Regions from separate parts of the Homo sapiens genome. Here all the other regions are reported to be linked to region 1. Evidence: microRNA targets listed by miRTarBase, many of them from high-throughput screens and not tested one by one. Region 1 holds a microRNA gene; each other region holds the end of a gene's coding sequence.

Region 1 (3,252 bases):
CTGGAAGTGAGGGCCAGGCTGCTCTCCCTGAGGCTCCAGGGAGACAGTGTGTGAGGCCTCTTGCCATGGCCTCCCTGCCCGCCTCTCTGCAGAGTATGTGAACATGCAGGATCCCGAGATGGACATGAAGTCAGTGACTGACCGGGCAGCCCGCACCCTGCTGTGGACTGAGCTCTTCCGAGGTGCGTCCTGGGCATGAGGGGACAGGGAAGGTGCCGGGTGGGCACGGATGCATGGGGGAGGAGGGTGCCCCTGCCCACCACACCCGTGCTGCCCACAGGCCTGGGCATGACCCTGAGCTACCTGTTCCGGGAACCGGCCACCATCAACTACCCGTTCGAGAAGGGCCCGCTGAGCCCTCGCTTCCGTGGGGAGCATGCGCTGCGCCGGTACCCATCCGGGGAGGAGCGTTGCATTGCCTGCAAGCTCTGCGAGGCCATCTGCCCCGCCCAGGTGAGCCCCTGCCCCAACCGGCCACCACGCCAGCCCCTGCCACTGGGAGAGGGAGGCCAGGCAGCCCTAGGCCCAAACCCTAGCCCCTGCTTGATGTGCGTCCCCAGGAAGTCCCTTTCCCCCTCTGAGCCACTTCCCTCGTGAATGGGAATGATGAGGGCTTGTTACCAGAGCACAGAGTCAGTGAGTTGGCAGAGTGAAGCTTCCAGCCCTGGGCAGGCGCCTGACACACAGAGGTTCCCCCTTGGGGTCTGGCCAAGGGTGTGACCCCTGGGCCTCTGAGCCATGGGGTGACACCTGAGGCCATCCACGCCTCCCTGGATGTAGCCACCGTTTCCGGAGTCCTGCTTGTGTGCCTGTTGCAGCTTCCCTTCCCCAGTGGCTGCTCCCCTGAGGCCCGGCTTTCCGTTCTCTTAGTGGGTCTCGTGCTTACCCGTGGGGGCCAGGCCTGCCAGCACGGGAACAATATGACTCGGTCAGAGCTCTGGTCAGACCCCTGTGTGTGCCTGGCAGGAGCCCCGGCAGCCGCCGCCGCTACTTTCTGTGTGCACAGCAACCCCTCCCAGTGTTCTGTGACTCGGGTGGCTCCTGTCCAGATCCTAGTTTGTCCTCTGGAGCACTCCCAGGTCCTCCAGGCCATGAGCTGCGGCCCTGATGTCTCTACTCCAGCCACGGACTGAGAGTGCATAGGAGTGTCCCCAAACAGCAGTCACGATGGTCACAACCTTGGCTTCCAGACAGTGAGTGCTGTCCACAGACAGACCCGGTGCTGTGCCATGTGTGTGACTCACAGCCTCTCCTGTAATCTCCACAACCCCTCGAGGAGGTCGAGGTTATTGTCTCCATCTTTATAAGCACTAAAGGATGAGCCTGCCAGCCACAGGTCCCACTGTGAGTTGTGGACACTACATTTCTGGGATGGGGGCATATGAGAGTCCTTGCCAAGCACATTTGAAGGTTTTCCCAGCCAGCCCCTCCCCCAGCGGGCTACCCAGGAACTGAGAGTTAGGACGTGCCCTTGAGTTTGGGCTGTGCCCCCACTTGCTGTGTAGCTTTGGGGAGCCCCTCAACCTCTCGGAACCTTGTTTTTCTCATCCATCAAATGGAGAGAAGTAGATTTAAGGCACAGGATTGCACCCAACAGTGTAGGCATTCTTGGCGATGTTGCAGGTTCGGCTCCAGACCATCGGGGTAAACTGAGTCACACAGCTGTTTTGGTTTTCCAGTGCATTTAAAAGTTAGATTTAGACCGGGCACAGTGGCTCATGCCTGTAATTCCAGCACTTTGAGAAGCCGAGGTGGGCGGATCACTTGAGGTCAAGAGTTCGAGACCAGCCTGGCCAACATAGTGAAACCCCGTCTCTACTAAAAATAACAAAACTTAGCCGGGCACGTTGGCAGGTCCCTGTAATCTCAGCTACTTGCTAGGCTGAGGCACGATAATCACTTGAACCGGGAGGTGGGGGTTGCAGTGAGCCAAAATTGAAAAAAAAAAAAAAAATTAGGGCCGGTTGCGGTGGCTCACGCCTGTAATCCCAGCACTTTGGGAGGCCAAGGTGGGCGGATCACAAGGTCAGGAATTCAAGACCAGCCTGGCCAACATGTTGAAACCCCGTCTCTAGTAAAAATACAAAAATTAGCCGGGTGTGGGGTTGCACACCTGTAGTCCCAGCTACTCAAGAGGCTGAGGCAGGAGAATTGCTTGAACCTGGGAGGCGGAGGTTGCAGTGAACTATGATTGCACCACCATACTCCATCCTGGGCCACAGAGCAAGACTTCGTCTCAAAAAAAAAAAAAGGATTTACACTGTACTGTAGGCTGCGAAGTGTCTAAAACACAATGTATATACCTTAATTAAAAATACTTTAGGGGCCAGGCACAGTGGCTCACACCTGTAGTCCAAGTGCTTTGGGAGGTCAAGGTGAGGGGATTACTTGAGCCCAGGAGTTTGAGACCAGCCTGGGCAACATGGCAAAACCCCGACTCTACAACAACAACAAAAAATACAAAAAATTAGCCCCTGTAGGCCCAGTTACTTGGGAGGTTGAGGTGGGAGGATCGCTTGAGCCTGGGAGGTTGAGGCTGCAGTGAGCTATGAGCTGCACCACTGTACTCCAGCCTGGGTGACAGGGCAAGACTCTGTCTCAAAAAACAAAAACAACAACAAAAACTTTATTCCTAAAAAGTGCTGACCCAGAGATAAGAAGCAAGCACATGGTTGGTAAAATGACATCAGTGAGCTTGCTTTATGCAGGGTTGCCCCAAACCTTCAATTTGTAAAACTCAAAATATCTGGAAAGCTTGGTGAGGCGAGGCGGGACTGTAACTCAGCACTCACCGCAGGGTGAGACCCTTAGGGCAGCGGGTGCTACACTGAACAAAGCGGTGAACAGCCCCCTCGTGAGAGGGGGTTCTTGGCAGATGACGCCAGCAGCTGACAAACAGGCAAGGCAGGCCGGGCACGGTGGCTCACGCTTGTAATCCCAGCACTTTGGGAGTCCAAGGTAAGCGGATCACAAGGTCAAGAGATCGAGACCATCCTGGTCTACATGGTGAAACCCCATCTCTACTAAAAAATACAAAAATTAGCTGGGCGTGGTGATGCACACTTGTAGTCCCAGCTACTCAGGGGGCTGAGGCAGGAGAATCACTTGAACCGGGAAGGCCGAGGTTGCAGTGAGCCGAGATTGTGCTGCTGCACTCCAGCCTGGCGACAGAGCGAGACTCTATCTCAAAAAAAAAAAAAAAAAAAAAAAAACCAGCAAGGCAGGGACGCCAGCAGGGCACGTGCTGAGGAG
Region 2 (7,713 bases), not on the chromosome of region 1:
TCCTCAGCCTCATCTTGCATCCCATTCCCTCAATCTTTGTGCTCCAGGCACACTGGCCTTTCTGTTCCTTGACTCCACCATGATCTCCCTGGCCTCTGGGCTTTAGCACATGCTGTTCCTTCTCCCTGAGATACTCTCTTTTTTTCTTTGAAACAGAATTTCACTCTTGTTGCCCAGGCTGGGGTGCAATGGCACGATCTCGGCTCGCCGCAACCTCCGCCTCCCAGGTTCAAGCAATTCTCCTGCCCAAGTAGCTGGGATTACAAGCATGCACCACCACGCCTGGCTAATTTTGTATTTTTTGTAGGATGGAGTTTCACCATGTTGGTCAGGCTGGTCTCGAACTCCTGACCTCAGGTAATCCACCTGCCTCGGCCTCCCAAAGTGCTGGGATTACAGGCTTGAGCAATTGTGCCTGGCCTCATTCACTACACTCTGGCCACACTGGTCTCCTTTCTGTCCTTCCGATATTCCAAGCTCTTTGGGGCCTTGGGGTCTGCGTTGTCTCCTCTACTTGCAATGCTTTCCCTCTAAGCTCTCTTCACATTTAGCTAATTCTCATCCTTCATGAGGATCACTTTCTTTTTCTTTCTTTTTTTAAATTTTTTTAATTTTTTATCTTTAGTAGAGATGAGGTCTCACTCTATTGCCTAGGCTGGTCTCGAACTCCTGAGCTCAAGTGATCCTTCCACCTCAGCCTCCCAAAGTGCTAGGATTACAGGCATGAGCCACTGTGTCCAGCCAAATGTTACTTTCTCAGGACATTCTTTCCTGAGCACTTGACTTAAAGTAGTTCCGTACCAGTTTCCTCCATCACATCACCTCGCTTCTTTCATGATGCTTATTACGATCTGAAATTATTTATTTGTCATTGATCTCCACTGAGAATGTAAGCTCTATTTTGTTCACCACTTTGTCCTCAGAGCCTAGTTGGTGTGTGGCATATAGTAGACTCATTGTAAATATCTGTTCGGATCAATGGAATCGATATTCCAAAACAATGTCAGATCTGGAATTTCCTCTTTGAAACGTGGAGGTGCTGCTCCTTTCTTCCAGCAGGTGGCGCCAAAGCTGCACCTGGTCCTTACCAGAGGTGTGGATGGGCTGTGAGGTTGGCAAGACAGGGCAGCAGGGCCGAGTGAAGAGGGAGAGACAGGGTTTGTTGTAGTAATGCTGGATCCAAGCATAGAGGAAGTCAATATGGCTCTTCTCCCAAGAATAAGTAGGTATGATCTGTCCAGAAGGGACCTAGAGTAGCCAATGACCCAACAGACATTGCTTCCCCTCTTCACCCGTCCCACCCCGAAAGAAGTCCCCAAGAATTCAACAGGGGATCTTGGAAGAGGAGAGCAATTTTCTGTGAGTGTGAAACTGGAGAGAAGCAAGGGTGTTCAAGTGTAAATCCCCTGGCCGGGCGCGGTGGCTCACGCCTGTAATCCCAGCACTTTGGGAGGCCGAGGCGGGCGGATCACGAGGTCAGGAGATCGAGACCATCCTGGCTAACACGGTGAAACCCCGTCTCTACTAAAAATACAATAAATTAGCCGGGCGCGTGGCGGGCGCCTGTAGTCCCAGCTACTCCGGAGGCGGAGGCAGGAGAATGGCGTGAACCCGGGAGGCGGAGCTTGCAGTGAGCCGAGATGGCGCCACTGCACTCCAGCCTGGGCCACAGAGCGAGACTCCGTCTCAAAAAAAAAAAAAAAAAGAAAAAGAAAGAAAAAATGAAAAGTCTAAATCCCCATAGGAAGTTTGGGGAAATTGTGACCTGGAGAGAGGTGTCACAGTGGGTCAGTGGGAGTTGGGTCTGATGCCCAGCCAAAGCCTGCTCTGGTCACAGCTCCCATTCACTCAGCTCCACGTGCCTGCCGCACCCCACCATGCCTGGCCCTCGGCTCAGTGTGGGAGACCACGATGAAAGAGACGATCCCTCTGAGATGTCCCAAAGGCAGAGGGGTAGGGACTGCTTCAGAGGGGCTTGCTGGAGTCAAGACACATTGGATGGGTGTCTGCCAGGTAGAGCTGCAGCAGGAGCTGCAAGACCAGGGTCACGCAGGTGGCCTGCAAAAAGAGCTGCATCTAGATCTGGGCCTGGGGAGGTCAGTAGGGTACTCAGACAGGAACTCACAGAAGGATTTCTAGGAAACTTTTTGTTTTGTTTGAGACAGGGTGTCCCTCTGTTCCCCAGGCTGGAGTGCAGTGGCACAATCATAGGTCACTGCAGCCTCAGATTCCTGGGCTCAAGAGACCCTCCTGCTTCAGCTGCCTGGGTAGCTGGAACTACAAGGTGCAAGCCACCACACCTGGCTAATTGTTTTTTGTTTTATAGAATCGGGGTCTTATTATGTTGCCCAGGCTGGTCTTGAACTCCTGGCCTCGTAATCCTCACACCTCAGCCTCCCCAGTAGCTGGGATTACAGGCAGAGCCACTACACCCAGTTTACAGAAATGTTTCTAAACAGGAGAGCTACTGAGTTATCTTGGATAGTTTGCAGAAAGAAGGTGAGGAGATCAAATTAAAGTCAAGGAGACAAGACAGGATGCTTGTCTATTCACCCAGGTAAGAGAGCATAATGCCTGAGAAGTAATTGTGGGGCTAAGAAAGAAACAAGCTTGAGTGGTTTGGAAAACTTTAATTTTTTTTTTTTTTTTTTTTCAGGCAGAGTCTTGCTCTGTTGCCCAGGCTGGAGTGCAATGGCATGGTCTCAGCTCTTTGCAACCTCCGCCTCCCAGGTTCAAGCCATTCTCCTGCCCTCAGCCTCCCAAGTAGCTGGGATTACAGGCATGTGCTACCACGCCTGGCTAGTTTTGTTTTTGTTTGTTGGTTTTTGGTTTGTTTCTGTTTTGAGACTGGTTCTCTCTGTCCCCCAGGCTGGAGTGCAATGGCGCGATCTCAGCTCACTGCAACTGCTGCCTCCTGGGTTCAAGCGATTCTCCTGCCTCCGCCTCCTGAGTAGCTGAGATTACAGGCATGCACCACCACACCTGGCTAATTTTTGTATTTTTAGTAGAGACGGGGTTTCACCATGTTGGCCAGGCTGGTCTCGAACTCCTGACCTCAGGTGATCTGCCCGCCTCGGCCTCCCAAAGTGCTGGGATTACAGGCGTGAGCCACTGCGCCCAGCTGAAAACTTTAATTTTTTTTTTTTTTTAAAGACAGGACTTGGTGGTTACTGGTTAGAGTGGAGGGAGAGAGGAGGTATAAGTGGGCTTCTATAAACATTATCTCAGAGTCTCTGAGCAGGCCAGCTCCAGAGGCCATAACAGACTCTAGGCTCCTGCCTTGCCCAGACAGCCTGACATGAGATGGCTGATACAAAGACAGTGTGTGACTTGCCTTGGTGTTGACAAAACCATTGGTTCACCTAACAGCCTTAAGTAGTGGTTAAGAGCCCAGGCACTATAGCCAACCTCGATTCAAGTATCAGCTCTTCCAGTGACTGTCCAATGACCTTGAGCAGGTTACTTAACTTTTCCCTGCGTCAGTTTCCTTATCTCTTAACGTGAGGATGACAATAATACCTTCCTCATAGGGAAGTTCTGACAACTATCTGAAGACTAACTGAATTCATACTTATTACACACATGTAACCATGCCTGTTAGTAACGCTTAATGTAATTTATCAAAGTAACCTGGCAGAACTTCATCAGTAAAAATGGTGGACCTCCCTCCCACCCAAAACGGAGCCCCACACTCAAGGTAAGAACCAAGCCAGAATAGCCTAAGAGCCTCTCTTGTCTGGGCCTCATTTATCTATTTATAAAATCAGGAGATTTGACTAGTAGCTCCTGATCCTGCCAGCTTTGCCTTCTTGTGATTTTGGGGGCTTGGCCTAAGTGTGAGACCCAGTGGTGTGTTAGGCAAGCTCCTACCAGCTTGTAAAAGCCAACTACTAAATGTTTAGGAAATGTTCAAATGAACAACCATGGATAACTTGAAATTGGCTATGGTGGGAGTTATTCATACCATGGAAGTTAGCCAAGTGCTCCCAACTAGGCCTTCCCCACCACCCTGTTCCCTACCGGAGGTGTTTGGTTTTTTTTTGTCACCAGTGCGTCTGTGGTAAAATCCTCCCTCATCTGATACACACATCCAGCAGGTACATTCTCACCTTTCAATACCATCAGTAACAGTTGTGGAGAAAGAACCACCAGTCTCCAGGGACCCCACAGGCCTCCAGCCCCACCAGCCCTGCAGGCTCAGGCATGCACCAGGCAGGAAGCACAGTGTACAGGCACACCCAGAGCAAGCATCTGTCTGCCGGTCCCCTGGTCATTCTCAGACACAAGGAAGTAGACAGTGGCGATTACGGTATTGGAGTCTTACAGAGTTGGGATAAAATTCCAGTTAGGTCACTAAAGGCTGCGTGACTTTAGCTAAATCCCTCTCTACACTAGGGTGTTCTTATCTTTCAAATAAGAACAGTCTTGACTTAGCAAGAGGCCAGGTGTAGTGGTTCACACCTGTAATCCCACTACTTTGGGAGGCTAATGCAGGAGGATTGCTTGAGTCCAGTGAGAAGGATTGGCCTGGGCAACATAGTGAAACCTCCATCTCTACAAAAAAATTTAAAAATCAGCCAGGCGTGGTGGTGCATGCCTGTAGTCCCAGCTACTCGAGAGGGTGAAGCAGAAGGAAGGATTGCCTGAGCCGAGATTGCGCCACTGCACTCCAGCCACAACTCCAGACATGTTCGCCCCCACCCAGTAGCACCTGGGGCTCAGTGTGTTCTCTAACGGAGTCTTAAGGCAGAAGGGCTCAGTGAGTGGCTGAGGACACAGACAGAAACAGGCAGCTGCTTTCCAGCTTTTATGAAAATTAATAACATTAATAGCTCACAGACATATACATACACACACATTGCTATGTACACAGTCATTAAGTTATTAATTAGGCTCTGTAAAAAAAAAGGTTTCTACATTAGTGTTCCGGGCTAGGCCCGATCAGTCCTTGGCATATTCACAGTGGCAGCCCCAGGGCTTGGCCCCACAGGCAGGCAGAGGGGAGGCAGGAGGCCACAGAGCAGCCGGCCCCACAGTGAGCACAGCAAGTGTCCTGGGCCACCTCCTTGAGTCTTCAGTTCCCTTCCTAGCACCTGCAGTCCAGCTGCTCAGCAAGCCGGCAGACAGGTCCTGATCCCTTCTGTGGCCTTCTGCATGGTGGCTTCGGGCAACGTGGCGGGCCCTAGAGGATGCTAGCCAGCTCTGTGGAGTCTGTTTCTGAGCAGCCAGAGCTGCTGGCCTCGTCCCTGCAAGAGAGAGAGGAGATGGGTTGGAGGAAGCATCCATCCTTACCCCTCCTCAGCCCCACCTGCCTCCTTCCTCACGTGATCTTGGCCCTGCTGTCGGACTAAAGTGAACCGCGGGACACAGAGTTTGCTCACTCCCACTTTCAACTGTTGGTTGGTCTGTTTACTGTCCTTGCTGCACACAGGGTACTGCAAACCCTAGATCTACACTCTCGCCTGGGCTGGCTGACGGGCTGGCATGACTCACTCCAGCCTGCCCACTGGTTTCCCCAGATGCAGGGTCAGGCCACACTCGAGGTCCTATATGCCAGGAGGCTGATGAAGAGTGCAGTCTCTGGAGCCGGAATGCTGAGGCTCAAACCCCAGCTCCGCCCCTTTCAGCTGGGCCAGGTACTCTTCCTGCTGAAACCTCAACTTCTTCACCTGCAGAGGGGGAACCCTAAGAACCTGATACTTAGGGTTGTTGGAGGGGTATGGGAGGTGATGGATACACACGTCCTATAACAGGCTCCTTAAGGACAGAGATTTTTGTCTTGTTCACTAGAGCAGTCAATGCCTAGCACATAGTAGGCAGCCAGTATGTATTTGTTGAATAAAGGTAAGACCACTTAACACAGTGCCTGGTGCGTACTTAAGTGTTACAGCTGTCCAGAGAAGATGTGTGGGGGGTGAGTCTGGACTTGGCCACAGGAGACACAAATTGAGGGTTTAGACACAGTGACGTCCCCTCCTCCAGCATCCTGTCCCCTCCCCACTCACCTCAGTGCCTGCAGGGCCTTCTTATTCTGCCGCCGCCTCTCCTCATCAATGGGGTACATTTTGAAGAGCAGCAGGCCCAGCAGGATGAGAACTATGGGAGCCATGGTCACGAGCATGTTCAGTGTAAACTTGACACGTTCCGGCTGCGAGCAGCCACGGGTCTGGTACCCTGCAAAGCTATGGGACCCAGGGGGTAGGAGAACGGTGAAGATGGGGCACCTGGGGCCTGGCCCTGCCCAGTCCTGCCCCAGGTCCCCACCCCACTCACTCCAGACTGAGGGTAGAAATGCCCAGTGACACTCCAGAGGCAAACTTGGTGAAGAAGACATAGAAGGAGAAGAAGATGGGCTCGGTTCCATGGAAGTGGGGCTGCTTCAGATGGAAGTCGTCAATGACATCAGGCAGCATGGACCTGCGCAGAGTAGTGACAGCCATGAGGACTGACCCACCTAACGGGCCTCTGTGTTAATGAGAAGAGGTGGCCCTCTGGAAGCTTGCAGTACCATGGGTACACAGCTCAGTGAGGATATGGGACCTTCACATGAATAAGAAAAGGCCTCTTGCTCTAAGAGGAAGTAACCCTGCCTGGAGGTGCTCAGCGTGGCAAGTGGAGCCCAGGCCAGATTACAGCCCCCATTTTTCACTCTGACTAGGTGTTCTTGCAAAGCTCACTACCTGTACAACTGTACAGGACAGACCTCCCCCACTCCTAACCTGGACCCACAGAATGGCCTGTGGGAGAACACTGCATAGAACTCTCCCTAAGGAGCTTCAAAACTGGGGACTAGGGGCTGGAGATACCCGAGGAGGGGGGCCTGTATATACCTACCAGGGTAGTAAGAAGGCAGCTGCCACACTGATGCCAGCTGCCACAGCTACCGCATATGTAATGATGAGGTTACTCTCCATGAGGGCCACCAAGATGAGAAATGGCACTGCTGACTAGGGAAGGGGGTGCAGGAAGATGAATCAGCTGGGAGGTTCCCACCAGACATCCCAACTCAACCCAGGCTCTGCTCTTCAACCCCACTCACTGAGATCCCAACATATACAGCTGTCTTCTTGCCAAACCGGGTCAAGAACCACTGCCAGATGGGAATGGTTAAAGTGGCCGAGAGCTGTGGATGGACAAAGGGGGTTAAAGGGAGGTGCTTTAGAGCCACAGAGCCCCTCCTGCCCTTCCCAGAACCCCAAAGTGGCTCCCAGCCCTGCCCAAGAGCAGCCAGATGACATCATGTGGGCAGCAACGAAGATGACAGGCACCTTTGACGGCTCCCCAGGGGAGCTCAGAGCTGGTCCAGGCCCACCTTGTCTGCTGCCCTCTCAAACCTCTGAGCCAAGTTCCTGGTGTCCTCGCCCTTGCTTTTGCTGTGCTCACTACTCAAACATCTAACCTCAAACTCTTTCTTTCACAGTCCTACCTTCGCAAGGTCCAACCAAATACCCTGAGAAGCCTCCCTCATCCTTTCATGACCTTGGGCCAGCCTGAGAAACATCCTCTGCCTATTCCAAGAACCATTCCACAGCCTATGTCACCTCAGCCCAGGCTGCCCGCCCCTGCTCAGGTCCCACTCACCATGATGGCCAGGAGTAGATTCTGGAATTCATTGCGGAAGCCCAAGGTGTAGGTGCAAAACAAGACAAAGTTCCCCTCCACCAGCTGGGCATGGAGCAAGGTAGGGAAGGAAATGCAAGGAAGGAGGTGATG
Region 3 (7,713 bases), not on the chromosome of region 1:
GCATGGAGCAGGGCCCCCACATCAGCACAAAAACCACCAGCACCACAAGGCTGAGCCCTATGTTCTCTTAATGCTCCTGGATGCTCTCTCCCATGGGACCTTGGGGCTGGGTCCACAGGAGCCAGCCCACGTGGCTGAAAGAGCAGCCCAGCCCCAGCGTGCATGGCAGGAAGGCCAGGGCTCCCAGCAGGCTGATGTAGCAGGAGGTCCCAGCAGGGCTCAGGAGCAAGAGGCAGGCCTGGGTCTTGGGAGCCCCCGCTGTCTCCTCCTCCACTGCCACCCTCTGGAACAGCCAGTTGGGCAGGGATTCTGTAAGGCCCAGGGCCCACATGGCCCCACAGAGCAGCAAGAGGGTGCCCCAGCCGGCTGGGAAGGCCAGGTCAGGCCGGGCCACAGCCACATGGCGCAGGAGAGCTGTGGCCACCATGCTATAGAAGATGCAGAACGTGGTGGCTGTGTTGGTGGCCTGGCTAATGGTGCAGATGGCAGGGCCCAGCCACCAGTTGTGCTGCAGGAAGCTCAGCAGCAGCACAGGCACCACGCAGGCCAGGAAGAGCAGGTCAGATGGCGTGATGTTCATCATGAGGCTGTGGGTCAGGGAGTGGAGCGGGTGGGGGGAGCCCGGGCCCCGGCCCACCACCAGCAGCATGAGCCCATTAGCTGACAGCCCCACCAGCAGGATGAGGCCACAGACCCCAGCAGAGATGAGTCGGAGCAGTCGCTCAGGTGTGGCCGTGAGCTGCGTGGTGAACGTAGCATTGGGCTCCATTCTGTTTCAAACACACAAGGACAAAGTAGAAACCAGCCAGCCCCAAAGGCCGCCTTCCCCATTCCTGCTAAGCCTCCTTTTTTCACAGACCCCCTGCATGTAGTGGGCCCAGATAAGGCCTGTCCTTGGCACACATTAGCCCCTGCAGACCTCATGACAACCCCATGGGATGGACTCCATTAGTACCCTGGGTTCAAATCCTGCCTCTGCTGCTTGCTAGCTCCAGTACCCTGGGATTTATTTATTTATTTATTTTTTTAGAAACAGAATCTCACTCTATCACCCAGGCTGGAGTGAGATCTTGACTCACTGCAACCTCCGCCTCCTAGGTTCAAGCGATTCTCATGCCTCGGCCTCCCAAAGTGCTGGGATTACAGGCGCCACCGCACCTGGCCCCTGGGAGAGTTACTTAATGTTTCTCTACCTCAGTTTCCTCAGCTGTAAGAAAGCAAGGAAATAAAATAAAACAGATGTCAATAGTAACTATCATAAGTGGTAAGACTAGGGTAATTTTCATTTTCTTCTTTAAAATTTATTTCTAAAATTTCTGCAGGGAGTACACATTGTTTTCATAATCTGATAAATATATATGTGCATACATACACACACACATATGTATCTATTTTTTGACAAAACAAAAACCCTGCCCTGTGAAACAAGCAGGTTTAATTTGAGGTTCAAATGGAAAAGTGGGTCTGAAAGGGCTTTGAGAAGGTGTGAAGCCCCTTCCAGTGGTTCCCAAGCTTCTCTGCACTTTGGGATCACCTGAGGAGTTTCACAAATACAGAAGCCTGGGTCCCACCCCCAGAGACATGACATAGTTGGTCTGGGCTTTAGCATTTTTGAAAGATCCCAAATAATTCTAAGGGCAGACCAGCCTGGGAATCATTGCCCTCTAGGTTATGCTGTGCAGGCCCCTGGCAGAGTGGGGGAGTCTGCACCCAGTGGTCAGACCTTTCTTCTCACCCCCACTCTGTCCCACATGTCAAGGGCAGGGGGAGTCCCCGATTGGGAGGACTCTGGCTACAAGATGGGATGTAGACATCCTAGAGCCAGCCCAGTGGCTGATGTCACCATTGGCCGCCCTGCAGGCCAGGCCAGGGCCCGGGAGCTTTAGCTGGAGGCTTGCCTGCTAACTCAGTACATATTTCCTGAGCATTTGCTCTGGACCAGGTTCCCGGAATCCAGCAGCAAACAAGACATAGCAGAGGAGTCCTTACTGGAGTTGCCCTCCCCTTTTCTACCACACCGGGGTGGGGGCTGGAGACACTCTTCTCCTGCGGGCTCAAAGCCAGGTTTGAAGGAGTCTCTGAGTCCCTCCTGCAGAGCCCCAGCCTGGGGAACTTGGCTTCGTCTCTGGGGCCCCAGGGCAGCAACGTGCCTGAGGGCAGCTGAGGGGAGACTGGAGAGGGGGCCTCTGTGAATTCTGATGTCGGCCACCTTCCCGGGTCCCACCAGCTTCAGAGACGGCAGGAGGAGGGGAAATGAAGGACCTGTCCTGGATGAAGGCTGTCATCCAGCCACTTTCCTGGCATTTATCACTGCCTTTTCGTCTCTTTTTCCTGGTCCACACCCACCAATGACATGGACTATTACTGGAGAGGAATTGGCAGGGAGCAATACGAGGCTTCAGGGACCTGGCCCCTCCTTCCCCGAAGCATCCGCATCTTCCTGTAAGCAGTTGCATAACTTCAGAGTTAAGTCTATGGGTATCGGCGTTTGCGTTTAACACTGGCTCCAGCACTTACTTGCTACGTGACTACGGGGAAGTTACTCAGCCTCCCTATGCAGTACTTTCCTTTTCCGTAAGATGGGGGAGCACGCCTGATGGTGTGAGGGCTAAATGAATTAACACGAGCTAGGTGCTCAGAACAGTGCCTGGCATACGGTAGGCACTGGGTAAAGGAGGGATGTCATTCTGCCCCTGCTCACCCTCAGCTCCCAAAAGCCCTCTTCTCTTAGAGCTCCTGCCCAGCCTTCCTTCTCTCCCCATGCCCTCCCTTCTCACTCCACAGCCTGAGTCCCATCAGCCCAGTCCCACCCTCCTTTTCTTAATCAGACTCTGGCTAAGCCTAAATCAGAGCCTCCTTGGCTGACATGCCCCAAGAACTCACCACTTGCCTGGAAGTTCACTCTGAAGTCTACCTCAAGTTTCTCCTGCTGCTGTCGTTGCCTACTTTGTGCTGCTCTGAGGTTCCTGGGTCCTGTTCCCTGGCTTGTGAGCCCTTTGACAGCAGGAAAGGCTGGTGGTCCTTGCACAGCTGTGCCCTGCCCAGCAGGTGGATCCGGCCCAAGAAAGCCAAAAGAGGGTGCTGGGCAGTGTGGAGTTCCTCCCAGAACTCCACCTCCTGCGAACCTGAGTTGCCTGAGGCCACAACAGAGCTGAGCTGAGACGGGGAGGCCTGGGGGCCACTCCCGTACCGGGCCCCCAAACGACAGGGGCTGTCTGCTCTACTGCCTCTCCCAGGAATCACACCCTGCCTACCTGCCTCATTAATTCCCTGGCCTACAGGACAGAGATGTTGGTGCCTGCCAGGTCCCTGGGCCCCAGAGAAAGAGCCATTAGCAACTATAGGACCTGTTTCCCATCCTTATCCAGGGCCAGCATCACTCACTGCAGCCCACACCCCTCTCTCTCTCTCTCTCTCTCTCTCTCTCTCTCTCTCTCTCTCTCTCTCTCTCTCTCTCTCTGAGCACACTGAGAAACTGCTCAGTTCAGGGGCAGGCTTGTGGGCTGCGGGAGGGGACCTGAGATGGGAGAAGACATTGGGGTAAAAAGGATCAGTGAAGGGCCCAGTAAAAGAATCAGCTGGAGGGCCGGGCGCGGTGGCTCATGCCTGTAATCCCAGCACTCTGGGAGGCCGAGGCGGGTGGATTATGAGGTCAAGAGATCGAGACCATCCTGACCAACATGGTGAAACCCCGTCTCTACTAAAAATACAAAAAATTAGCTGGGTGAGGTGGCGGGCGCCTGTAGGCCCAGCTACTTGGGAGGCTGAGGCAGGAGAATGGCGTGAACCCGGGAGGTGGAGGTTGCAGTGAGCCGAGATTGCGCCCCTGTGCTCCAGCCTAGCGACTGAGTGAGACTCCGTCTCAAAAAAACAAAACAAAACAAAACAAAACAAAAACACACAAAGAATCAGCTGGACCATGGGAATCATCCACATGGAGTCTGGAGGTTGAATGGGGTCCATTAAGGGAATCTAATCCAACTTTGGCAGCTTCAGATGCTGGGATCTTCTCTACCTCACCTTTGCCAAGCATTACCTGTCTTCTTGTGCGCCTCTGGTGATGGAAGGCTCACTGCTGCTGAGACGTTCCTTTCAGAACTGAGAAGAGGGGTTGGGGCCAGGGCCTAAGACTGTGTGATGCAACAGCCCTCTGTTGCTCCCTCTTTCTCCTTCGTTCTCTCTCTCTGTAACTCTGTTCCTTGAACTGTCTTTGCTTGTCCCCCTATGAAACTGGGGTTTCCATTGATTCAGCCAGGAAATTCCCCAGTACCTGAAGGATTACAAAATACCAAACCCAGGCTGGGGGCGGTGGCTCACGCCTGTCATCCCAGCACATTGGGAGGATCACTTGAGCCCAGGAGTTTGAGACCAGCCTAAGCAACATTGCAAGACCTTGTGTTTGCAAATAGCTAAAAAATTAGCCGGATGTGGTGGCATGTGCCCATGGTCCCAGCTACTTGGGAGGCTGAGGTGGGGGAATCACTTGAGCCCAGACAGTTGAGGCTGTTGTGAGTGGCGATCATGCCAATGTACTCCAGCCTGCGCAACAGAGAGAGATCCTGTCTCAAAAAACAAACAAACAAATTCAGTGCCTGGCACATGTTGTATATTCAATTTGTGATGATGGTAAGATGTGACAGACATACAAACGAAGACCATGGCCGTCTCTCCAAGACTCTAAAGCAAGCTCTCCGAGGGCACTGGAAACCCCAGCCCTAGCTGATAAGGGGCAGCCACCATTCAGGAGGTGAATATTATGGAATTCTGGAAACTTCCACAAAAGCTCCAAATAGAAGTGTGTGAATGATTCTGAGTCTCGGCTCCCCAGCTGCTTGGACCCCCCAGCCACACCCTAGCTGCCCCTCAAATGCATCCAGAGACTGACAACTCAGGCCAAAGCCCTGTGCTTGGGGACACCATGGCATTGGAGCAGGGGGCGGGACCCCCAAATGTGACCCCTGGGAGGTGTGTTTTGTATGGTGGGGAAAGGGAGTGAGGTTGGGGCTCTGGAAGACAGGAGGGCATCGAGGCATATCAGAGGCCTTTGGAACATTACTCTTCCCAGGAACCAGATTCTGCTGGGAAGAAAGCCCATGCTTGCAAATAGAAATAGCGAGGGAGACCAGGCCAACAGCGCCCTGCCAAGCAGAGCACAGAGGGACCGCTCTAACACCGAGCAACATGTGATTAACAGGTTACACTAATTAGGAGCCAGCAGCACCCAAGGGAGCTCCTTGGGAAGTTTCTCTCCTCCTCCTCCACATCTCTTTTTTCTGATTATGTATTGAATACTGTTATTGTTGAAAATCTGAAAATACAAATATGTGTAAAATGGAAAGTAACACCCCCCCCCCACATTCTCCCTAAAATTTTACACCCACAGATGTGCGGCCAATATTTTGGTGTATTTTCCTTAAGTCGTTTTTCTAGACTTTCTTTGTTTGGAGAGTTTTGCCATACCCCTGCCCCTCAAGCCTTGTTCACTCAGCAAAGCCCTCCTTTGGAGTGTGAAAGGCAGAGGTGATGCGGCCCTGCTCTGGGATCCGAGTCCTGAGTTGAGAAGGGTTTTCCTGAACCTCCAAGCTGGTCCTCTGTGTCGTTGCTGTCCAGGAACAAAGGACAGGAGCTGAGGGACAGGAAACCCCATGGGTGTCCATCCTACCCAGGACAGGACAGGTGATCAGGAGCAACAGCCGAATCTCTTGGGCGGCCTCTTGGGGGCCACCTTCACCAGCGAGTCCTTCAGGCCTTCTTCTTGCATCCTGAGTGACCTATGTGACAGTGCCAGGCATCAGGCCTCTCTCTCACCTCCTACGGGCAGCACGGATGGGCCCATGGGTGCAGCTGGGGGGTGGGAGGCCGCACCCACAACCCCCACAACAGCTCTGCCCCTGCCCTGCATTCCACATGAGACCCGAAGAATTGAGTCACTGAGACTTTGACCTTCTCTTTCTGGCCTACTATGTGCCAGGCACTGTGCAGGACTCTGACTATGACAAAGAAGCCACCATTCCCTCCCTTGAGTAGTGAGAGAGACAGACAGGAAAAGGGGTGACTGCAGCCCGGGAATGATGGGGAGGCACACAGGGACTTCACACCAGGTCCTGGAGGGATCTGGGGAGGAAGGAGATGGTGACCGAACTGAGCCATGGACAAGGTATGCCAGCAGAAAGGGTGGGGGAGGTGCATCCCAAGCAGAGGGCCATGGCGCGGCTCAGTGCCGAGAGAGCTTGGAGGCTGGGGAAGCAAAAGAAGTCCATTCATTTCTTCGTGATATATTTACTGTGTGCCAGATGGTGCTCATCTGATCTAGCTCCCCTCATGCCTTACTCATTTTATTCATTTATGGAGCACCTAGGTCCCAGGTATGGGGAGAGGGGCTGAACAAAACAGACATGGCCCTGCCTTCCTGGACAACAAGAAAACAGATAAATGCATATATCATTAATATGTGTCGTGTCAAGAAGGGCCATGAAGGACACAAACAGGGGCTGTGATCCAAAATAGTGATGGCAGGTGGGTGATCAGGGAGGGAGTCTCTGAGTGGCTGGAACTTGGCAAGTGTGTGTGTGTGAGTGTGAGTGTGTGTAAGAGTGTGAGTGTGTGTGGGTGTGAGTGAATGTGTGTGTGTGTAGGGGTGGGGGAGATGGCACTAGAGATGCTGCAGGCCATTGCAAAGCATTTGGATTTTAATGGAAGCTACTGGAAGTTTGGGAGCAGAAGAGAGACACTCCTTTTCTCAGCCCTCTTTGCAAATGAAAAAACTGAGGCTCAGAGAGCCTAAGTGCCTGTGGGGAGTGATTCAGCGAACGGGAAGGGCAGAGCTGGAGTCAGGAGACTCTCAGTGCAGGGCTCTCTCTCCCCTCAGACTGGTGAGCCCAGGTCTTTAACTAGGTGCTTCCCTGACCCATTTCCTCAGAATGGGCCTTCCTGTCCCACCTGGGAGTCAAGAGTGGGGCCGGAGCTGTCCCAGAGGATTCTGCAAGGGGGGGGGTGGGGGCGGCGGGGGGCGGGCAGCACTTACCTGGCCAGGTTTACTACAGGCTCCAGGATGTTGTGACCCAAGGCGGCACTGCACTCCCCAAAATAGACCCCCAGTTCCTGCAGGCCAGACAGGGAGGGACATATGTGCCTTGGGAGAGACAACTGAAAGGCCAGGCCATACCCCGCCACTAAAGTCCCGGCCATCAGAGTCCCAATGCATCCCTAAGCTGACCTCAGTGGCGAGCAAGACAGCCCCATCTCAGCGTGGGCCACGGTCCCTGCCTGGAGCCCTTTGCCCACTGTCCCTTCACCCCGGCTGGCCAAGGTGTCAAGGAATGCATTGAAGAGACATTTCACAGCCTTCGGAGTGGCATGGGAAGCCTGCATCCCAACTTGGAGAAATGCCCCTGGAGACATTTTATAAATGTTAGTTATGTTTTTTAATTTCAGAAATATTTCATTGGGGGAATATTGGAAGATATAGTATAAGACAGTACCAGCTCAATATCTAAACCACTGCTGTTAGTGTTTGGGTAGATATTGCCATTCTGTTTTATATAACCCTTTTACGGGGCGGGGGCTAACTGTCCTGTACAGTTAGGTTAAACCACACGAAATTGCTATTTTTGGCAAGCTCCAGTCAAATATCAGCAATTTCATATGTTTCAACCTAACCTATATCTAGATTTGTAGCTGCTTATATGATTTTCTATTATATTGTAAGCATTT
Region 4 (7,713 bases), not on the chromosome of region 1:
CTGAATCTTCAGTTTAAATGACATGCCATGTTAAACATTGCCCCAGAAAGATCAACACACTGAGACATACTTGATACATTACTGAGCTTTGAGAATAAAAAACAACCCTTTTTGGCACCTAGACAATAATAATACTGTAATACCAACAACAGTAATAATAATAAAAAGAATGAAATAGAGTAAAGCCAGTGAAACAGGGAAGAAATTCAGACTGGCCCCAGATGTCTTCATGAACCCATTAAAAATCAGAAAATTGTGGTTTAACATCTACAGAGAATTAAAGAAAATGATGTATGAGGTAAGAATTTTATATCTAGGCAATTACCGTTTTGACCTAGACCTCTGGTCTCTTTTTTAAAAAACATAAAATTGTTCTATGATGAAATAACAAAATCATAATCAAAGTAAGAATCCAGAAACAGAGAAGGTGTGTGAAATAAAAGAACAGGCCCTAAACAGAGAACCCCTTTAAATCTGAAACTAGTCCTAAGACCAAACAGCAGTGGGAATTATACGGACAGAATAGAGTCAGAATATAATAAACTATGTCATTACCACCATTGGAAGGAGGATAATACAGAAGAAATGGAAAGAAGCACAGATACATAAATTCCCTCATTTGTCATCATCAGGAGTTAACAGGCAGCATCTAAAATTAGTAAATCAAGGCCGGGTGCAGTGGCTCACACCTGTAATTCCAGAACTTTGGGTGGCTGAGGCGGGTGGATCACTTGAGGCCAGGAGTTCGAGATCAGCCTGGGCAAAATGGTGAAACCCCGTCTCTACTAAAAAGACAAAAATTAGCTAGGTATGGTGGTGCACACCTGTAATCCCAGCTACTCGGGAGGCTGAGGGAGGAAAATCGCTTGAACCTGGGAGGTGGAGGTTGCAGTGAGCCGAGATCCTCCACTGTACTCCAGCCTGGGTGACAGAGCGAGACTGTCTCAAAAAAACAAAAAAAAAAAAAAAAAACTTGATAAATCAAGAAATAGAGAATTCCTATATATTTAAATTTATGTAGGAAACCACTGGAGAATTAACATGACCATAAACCTTTTAAATGACCAGAAAGAGGGACACACACATGCATACAGAAGAAAGAAAACCAAGTTCAGTGTCACGTTCATAGGCATGGCCTTAAACAATGTACTCAGGAATGTTAAAATAAAAAGATGGGCAAAGAAAAACCAGGTACATACAAACAAAAGTAAAACGGACTTCTTAACATGAGCATCAAGAAGTTGGCATTCAAGGAAGAGGTGTCAAACAATTTAGGAGGCTCTCTGAAAATTATATGGTCCTTCTTTGCTGTCACATTGCATCAATGACTGCTGGCCTCCAAAGTCTGCGCAGTAAGCCCCAAAGATCTTCTCATTAACCCCATGCCTGCATCATGCAGACATCCTGGGAACCAGTGGGACAGGAGGCAGCAAAGCCCAACTGGCCTTTATGGCTCTGGGTCTCCACTTCAGGTTGAATTGTGCCCTCCTCCCAATTCCTGTGTTGAGATCCTAACCCCCAGTAGCTCAGAATGTGACCTTATTTAAAAATAGGATCTTTGCAGATGTAATTAGTTAAAATAAAGTCATCGTGGAGTGAGATGGACCTAATCCAGGATGGCCAGTATCGTTGCAAACTGGGGAAATTTGGAAAGAGAGACACAGGGAGAAGGCTCTGTGAAGATGGAGTTATGCTTGCACAGCCAAGGCACTGCCAGAAGTGGAGAGAGAGCCTTCCCTAATGCCTTCAGAGGATCCATGACCCTGCTGATACCCTGATCTTGGACTTCTGGCCCCCAGAACTAGGAATCAGTAAACTTCTGTTGTTCTAAGCCTCCCAGCATGTGTTACTTTATTATGGCAACCCTAGCAAACTGGTACAGTCCCCAGTGTTCTGCACATCTTTGTGACTAATTCCCCAACTGTACCCCTCTTGCTAGAGGAAGTATCTCACACTGCTGTGTTTCTCTTGGTGCTGTCTCTCGACTGCTTCTTCCTTACACCCACCATCCCCATGAGGGTAGGGATTTGCATCTGCTTTGTTCATGAATCTCTCCTCCGCACAGGCGGGCCCCACGATCAGACGATGCTCTTAGTGGCAGCATGATGGCATTCAGGAGGATTAACATGCACAGATGTTTGGGACTGGAGAAGTGAGGTTCAGCAAGTAGGAAGAAGAGAGGGCACCATTTAAACAGCAGATCCACCATGCGTCTTTATTCACATAGCACCAAGTAACACAGTAGCACAACATATGGAAAGAAAGTAACAGGCAACACAAAGAGAAATCCACCAGAGTCCAGAGCATACTCGTGCCAGCGGATTCCAAGACCCATCTGTGACAAACTGGTGGGCAGAACTATGTGCAGTCACTGTAGTGAGTACAGGAACTTCATAGCCCTCCTCACACCCAAGATGGCCCTATGCAAGTCAAGATGCCGTGGTGGGTAGCCCGGATGACTGTGGGATGACATGGGAAACTGGGAAAGAATGTATTGCATGCCTCAGAAGAATGGACTGTCTGACTTGGGAGCCTACCTTAGCAAGTTTTCCCTTTACTGATCATTTTCTCTTCATTTTCAGATTGTGGCCAAGAAGTACAGAGATTTTGAATTTCCTTCTGAAATGACTGGCATCTGGAGATACTTGAATAATGCTTATGCTAGAGATGAGTTCACAAATACGTGTCCAGCTGATCAAGAGATTGAACACGCATATTCAGATGTTGCAAAAAGAATGAAATGAAGCTGGGCTGTTTTCTGTCTTATTTCTCAGTTGAGTGAGCAAGGATACGAAAACAGTGTGTTTGAAAACAAATTAGGTTTGGGTTCAATTCCTTCAATTTTTAAAAAACTGGTCTCTGAGAGTTTTTTAAATCATTGAGAGCCTGTTTTTCTTCTCTAAAACATTAGTTTAATTTTCTTCAAAATGAAAATACTGCTTTGTAATTACAAAATGAGACACACCTATCTTGATATTTTAAAGCAATATCAGAGGGTGTAAAGAAGGACATTTTAACAATCGCCTTCAATTTTACTCCACTTAATTACCGAAAACTTACTGGAGAACATGTTCCAAATCTTCAGTATCTTGTTCTCTCTCTCTCTCTCTCTCTCTCTCTCTATCACACACACACACACACACACACACACACACACACACAATTTCATTCATATATGGTATTGCATTATTTTATTTTAAAGCACTGGTGAGGGGACCTCTTGGTGATTCCTGGATGATCATACACAGAGGACTTACACCATACAAAAATATTGGGCACCGCAGTGCCAGAGAAGATGCTTGAGGTTAGATTTTAAGGAGTGGGGAATTGTGAAGCCCACAGATGCGCACGCAATGACCAGCAGGAACCGGAAGCCCTGGGTCACCCCCACTCTGCCTCATTTCTGCCTCCAGGATGCCACTGCCTCTGCTTCCAGGAAAGGCAAGGGGGAGGGTGCTTATCCGTGTCTCTGGTTCCAGCTTCCTGTCTTTGCTCCCTCCCCTCTCTTAGAGACTGTGCCTTCAGCAGGACTCTTAATATCTGCTGCAACTTGGAGAACCTCCCTGCCCTGAAATGTGAACCAAGCACACTTTGGTTCCTTCTCCGGGCGGCTCTCTCTGAGACCCAAGGCTGCAGTCCCTCAGTGCTGGTGGTATCGTGTGGGGATAGCAATACTTCTCTGCCCTTCATTGTCTCATCTAGACATCAAGCAGGGAAAATCCAGGGAGATTAAATTCATGGTGACAAGTCCTGGGCAGTTCTGGTAAACGGTCCAGTTAGGGAGGGAGTAGAAACTATTGACTCAAAAGAGTTTCTGGCTGATCTGTGGCTTTGCCTCCACCATCCCTAACCAACCTCTCATCACAGCTTTGTGTGTGGGCTGAGTGCTGGCCTTAACCCTAGGCGTGGAAGAGAAAATGTGAGGTTGTTTAGATACTCATCAGGACCTCACAGGAGCTGAGACTTATCAGCCAGAATGTGTTCTTCGGACAGTCGTACACATCTTACAGAAAACCCTCCTTGTAGAGTTGGTTGTGGTATGTGTTTGATGCTATAAAGCTCATTTTTAATGTGTACACCTGCTCTAGGGACGATTCGTTTGAAAGAGAGTAAGATGCATTAACAGAAACTATCCTGGGATTAGGTGAAAAATGTCTAGCAAAAGAAACAAAGTCTTTAATAGAGTGGCCTCTTTCGCTCTTCGATTATGACTGCTGCAGTTTTACCCCAGCAGTCAGCTGTCTTTGTCAACCATACGTTTTTGGAGATTGGGTCTAGCACATGTCACCCTTGTCCACGTTGTTTCACATCTGGTTAGGGGGCAGATTTTAAAATGTAGTTTTGTAATGTTACATTTAAGCATGATAAATGATTAGACTACCAGATGTTACTAGTGCTAACTTTGTATTCTTAGACATTAAAATGATTGACATAAACTCTTTGTGCCTTGAAAATGAAACAAATTATAAAAATGTTTAAATGGAACCAATTTCTTTTGGGTTTTATTTTTTATTTTTTATTATTTTTTGCATTCCCCATTCTCCATTTAGGTTTCAAGAAATAAAATGAATGGTATGGGCTTCTTTTAAAATGGTGAGGACAGGCCTGGCATACCGGCATAGTGGCTCATGTCTGTAATCCCAGCACTTTGGGAGGCCGAGACAGGCAGATCACCTGAGGTCAGGAGTTCAAGACCAGCCTGGCCAACCTGGTGAAACCCCATCTCTACTAAAAATACAAAAATTAGCTAGGCATGGTGGTGGGCACCTGTAGTCCTAGCTACTAGGGAGGCTGAGGTGGGAGGATACCTCGAGCCTGGGAGGTGGAGGTTGCAGTGACCTGAGATCACACCACTGCACTCTAGCCTGGGCAACAGAGTGAGACCCTGTCTCAAAATGAAATGAAATGAAATGAAATGAAATGAAATGAAATGAAATGAAATGAAAAACAAAATAAAATAAAATAAAATAAAATAAAATAAAATAAAATAAAATAAAATAAAATAATGGTGAGAGCAAGTTTGAACCTGAGATTATGGGCATTTGAATTAGAGACAATCCATACTTCAGTTGTGAATCACAAAGACATTTTAAAGGAACCTTAAAGAGGCCTCCAAAGACACCCATGAACAGTCCTTGTCCAGGTGACTGGCATCGACACCCTGCTGGGTGTTCTTGTTCTACTTTTACGTGGAGTTGTAGGAAAGGAGCTGGTTCTGGGTGGTCTTCCCCAGCCCTGTCCCAACTCTGCCTTCAGCTCCGCCCCCAGCCCACACCTCTTGATTCTCCTAAAAACCTACATGTGTGTAAGGAGGTAAGAAATATTCCAGAGCTGTTCTGCTGGACCAAAATCTTCATTACAGTGTGTTTTAAAAAACAAAATGCATTTGTTCTTCAAGAGATACCATACAAAATGTAAACATGGACGAATAATGAACAAATTCTTCTTTTCAGGCTGTGTGGAAGTTTTTCTGGACGGAGAGGATTCCATTCTCAATTCTAGTTGCCCGAGAGGCTTGAAAATTAGTTCATAAAAACCCAAACTTTACCTTTTTTTTTATTTAATTGAGATGGAGTCTCGCTTTGTCGCCCAAGCTGGAGTGCAGTAGCTCGATCTTGGCTCACTGCAACCTCTGCCTCCCAGGTTCAAGCGATTTTCCTGCCTCAGCCTCCCAAGTAGCTGGGATTACAGGGCACCACATCAGGCTAATTTTTTTGTTTTTAGTAGAGATGGGGTTTCACCGTGCTGCCAAGGCTGGTCTCAAACTCCTGAGCTCAGGCGATCCACTTGCCTCGCCTCCCAAAGTGCTGGGATTACAGGTGTGAGCCACCACGCCCGGCCTCCAAACTTTCCTTAAGAACACAGAATGTCCTAAAGCAGGCTGGAAGGGAACATGAGAGCATCACAAGGTTCTACTTTGTGGATACTGCAGCATACGGAAATGCAATGACAGAATCCGCCCAGAAGAGGACTTCCAGAGACCAGAGGTCTCAATCATTTCCATTCTATAAGTCTATCTCTAAGAATTGATTATATGTTCAAGCCCTTCACCCCCAAGATAGGCGGACAGACAGACACACACACACACTAGACACACATACGTGTATACACCAATTTGTGACACCATTGTCACACACTCTCACATACTCATAAGCACACTCCCACAGACAGACATTCATGCACACCCTCCACCCCCACCCCGCATGCAGGATGAACTCCTTCCCCTCTCACCCTCCCCCAGTCGTAAGCAGTAACTCACTCTTAGCACAACCCACCCTGCCCTGAAGTTCCCCCTTCCAGTGGTTCATAATTAGGCTTTGGAAAATTTTAGATTAATGGCTTTTTTTTTTACATTTTAATTTTTTTTGAGACTGGGTCTCACTCTGTCGCCCAGACTGGAGTGCAGTGGCGTGATTTCGGCTCACTGCATCTCTGCACCCCATCCCCAGTACCCACCACCACAGGCTCAAGCAATCCTCCCACCTCAGACTCCTGAGTAGCTGGGACCACAGACACACACCACCACGCCTAGCTATTTTTTTTTTTTTTTTTGCATTTTTAGTAGAGACAGGGTCTCACCATGTTGCCCAGGCTGGTCTCAAACTCCTGAGCTCAAGCAATCCATGCGCTGTGGCCTCCCAAAGTGCTGGGATTACAGGCATGAGCCACCATGTCCAGCAGGCATTAAAAAAATTTTTTTTTTACAAGAAAATCTCAACCCTTCTTTTATTTTACAGTTAAGAGAACCAAGATGTCCTTCATTCTAAGCACACATAATTAACAAAGCCCTACATACATGAAATGGATGCATTGGGGGATGCTATTCACATGACAAAATGACTTCTCTTTCCATATATGGGTGTAAGTCTCAATTATCCTGTGGCCAATTTCCCTTCACACATTGGTATTTTGGTTTAATAAATTACATGCATTTCAGGCCATGGCCACTTTGTAAGGGATGTGTGTGGCCTCTGGTCACAAAGGGACTGACTACACTGTTCCTCAGGGCCTTTGCAGGTCTGGGGTGTCAGGAAGCCCTTTCTGCTTCTGGGATCTCAGGGACCCAGCAGGAGTGGCACCTGCCATTGCAGCTGGTGGATTGACACGGTCATTGTTCCCATTGCAGAGGGTTCTGGTGGAGTCCTCTATGAGCCTTGCCTTGAAGGAGGCCATTTAGGCAGGCAGAGTCGAAAGCTGCCTGGGGAAGTGGCGGGTCAAGTCATGGTCCAGAGGAAATTGTGTTCAGCAGCATGGAGCTGCATATTTGGGAGGAGGAAGCCATTTACTTAGGTTATAAGGCCTGGGATCGGGCCACCAATGGGATCTTATCCAACCTGTATTCATTTTACCCTTTTGTGGGACTGCCTACCCTATTGTTCAGTCCTACCCTATTGTTCTGGCTCCCATGGCCCCTGGCTCTGTAAGCTTGTCCTAACAACATTCTGGAAGAGAAACTATTTTTCTTGATGACACCTCCCTCTCCCATCTCTTCCTCGATCCCCTTCTGTAGTGGATTCTGTGATGTACTCCTGGGTGAGTGGACAAGGACAGTAGCCATCAGTGGCTGGCCTAGGATTCCCCATGGTTCAGCCGATCTGCTGGGCTCTGTCTCCCTGCAAAGGCCTCTTTCCAGGTGGCTGACACTTGCGAGTCTGAGTTAGGTCTGTTTCTGAAGCTCTGACCTACACATGTAACCAGCACCTGCTAGGACAT

Evidence for each region. Region 1 holds the annotated microRNA hsa-miR-4691-3p (CCAGCCACGGACUGAGAGUGCAU, at 1,119-1,141, shown strand). A microRNA usually pairs through its seed, bases 2 to 8, with sites in the 3' UTR of a target mRNA and lowers its output. Matches are read on the target gene's strand: a 7mer-m8 pairs with bases 2 to 8, a 7mer-A1 pairs with bases 2 to 7 and ends in A, and an 8mer does both.
Region 2: miRTarBase lists MFSD2A as a target of hsa-miR-4691-3p. The part of its 3' UTR that is shown has no 7-base or 8-base seed match.
Region 3: miRTarBase lists RAB44 as a target of hsa-miR-4691-3p. Seed matches in the 3' UTR shown: 7mer-m8 at 4,843-4,849 and 7mer-m8 at 4,731-4,737.
Region 4: miRTarBase lists CLIC6 as a target of hsa-miR-4691-3p. Seed matches in the 3' UTR shown: 7mer-A1 at 3,816-3,822.

What each region holds. Positions count from the first base shown.
Region 1 is chr11:68,032,831-68,036,082 of GRCh38, forward strand. It overlaps MIR4691 (microRNA 4691), which reads left to right and starts at 1,067; the gene lies at 1,067-1,151. It overlaps NDUFS8 (NADH:ubiquinone oxidoreductase core subunit S8), which reads left to right. Exons shown (of 7, transcript NM_002496.4): 4 at 93-182; 5 at 281-453. MIR7113 (microRNA 7113) reads left to right here and starts at 34; the gene lies at 34-92.
Region 2 is chr1:39,967,038-39,974,750 of GRCh38, reverse strand. It overlaps MFSD2A (MFSD2 lysolipid transporter A, lysophospholipid), which reads right to left. Exons shown (of 14, transcript NM_032793.5): 9 at 7,582-7,665; 10 at 7,040-7,123; 11 at 6,835-6,947; 12 at 6,274-6,417; 13 at 6,006-6,182; 14 at 4,795-5,246. The coding sequence ends at 5,183. Among named protein-coding and RNA genes, the nearest start is that of MFSD2A, 16 kb to the right of the region's middle.
Region 3 is chr6:36,730,061-36,737,773 of GRCh38, reverse strand. RAB44 (RAB44, member RAS oncogene family) reads right to left here. Exons shown (of 14, transcript NM_001257357.2): 13 at 7,025-7,101; 14 at 4,590-5,771. The coding sequence ends at 5,681. It also overlaps the pseudogene GPR166P. Among named protein-coding and RNA genes, the nearest start is that of RAB44, 36 kb to the right of the region's middle. RefSeq lists an enhancer at 2,013-2,514.
Region 4 is chr21:34,713,739-34,721,451 of GRCh38, forward strand. It overlaps CLIC6 (chloride intracellular channel 6), which reads left to right. Exons shown (of 6, transcript NM_053277.3): 6 at 2,583-4,485. The coding sequence ends at 2,744. Among named protein-coding and RNA genes, the nearest start is that of LINC00160, 20 kb to the right of the region's middle.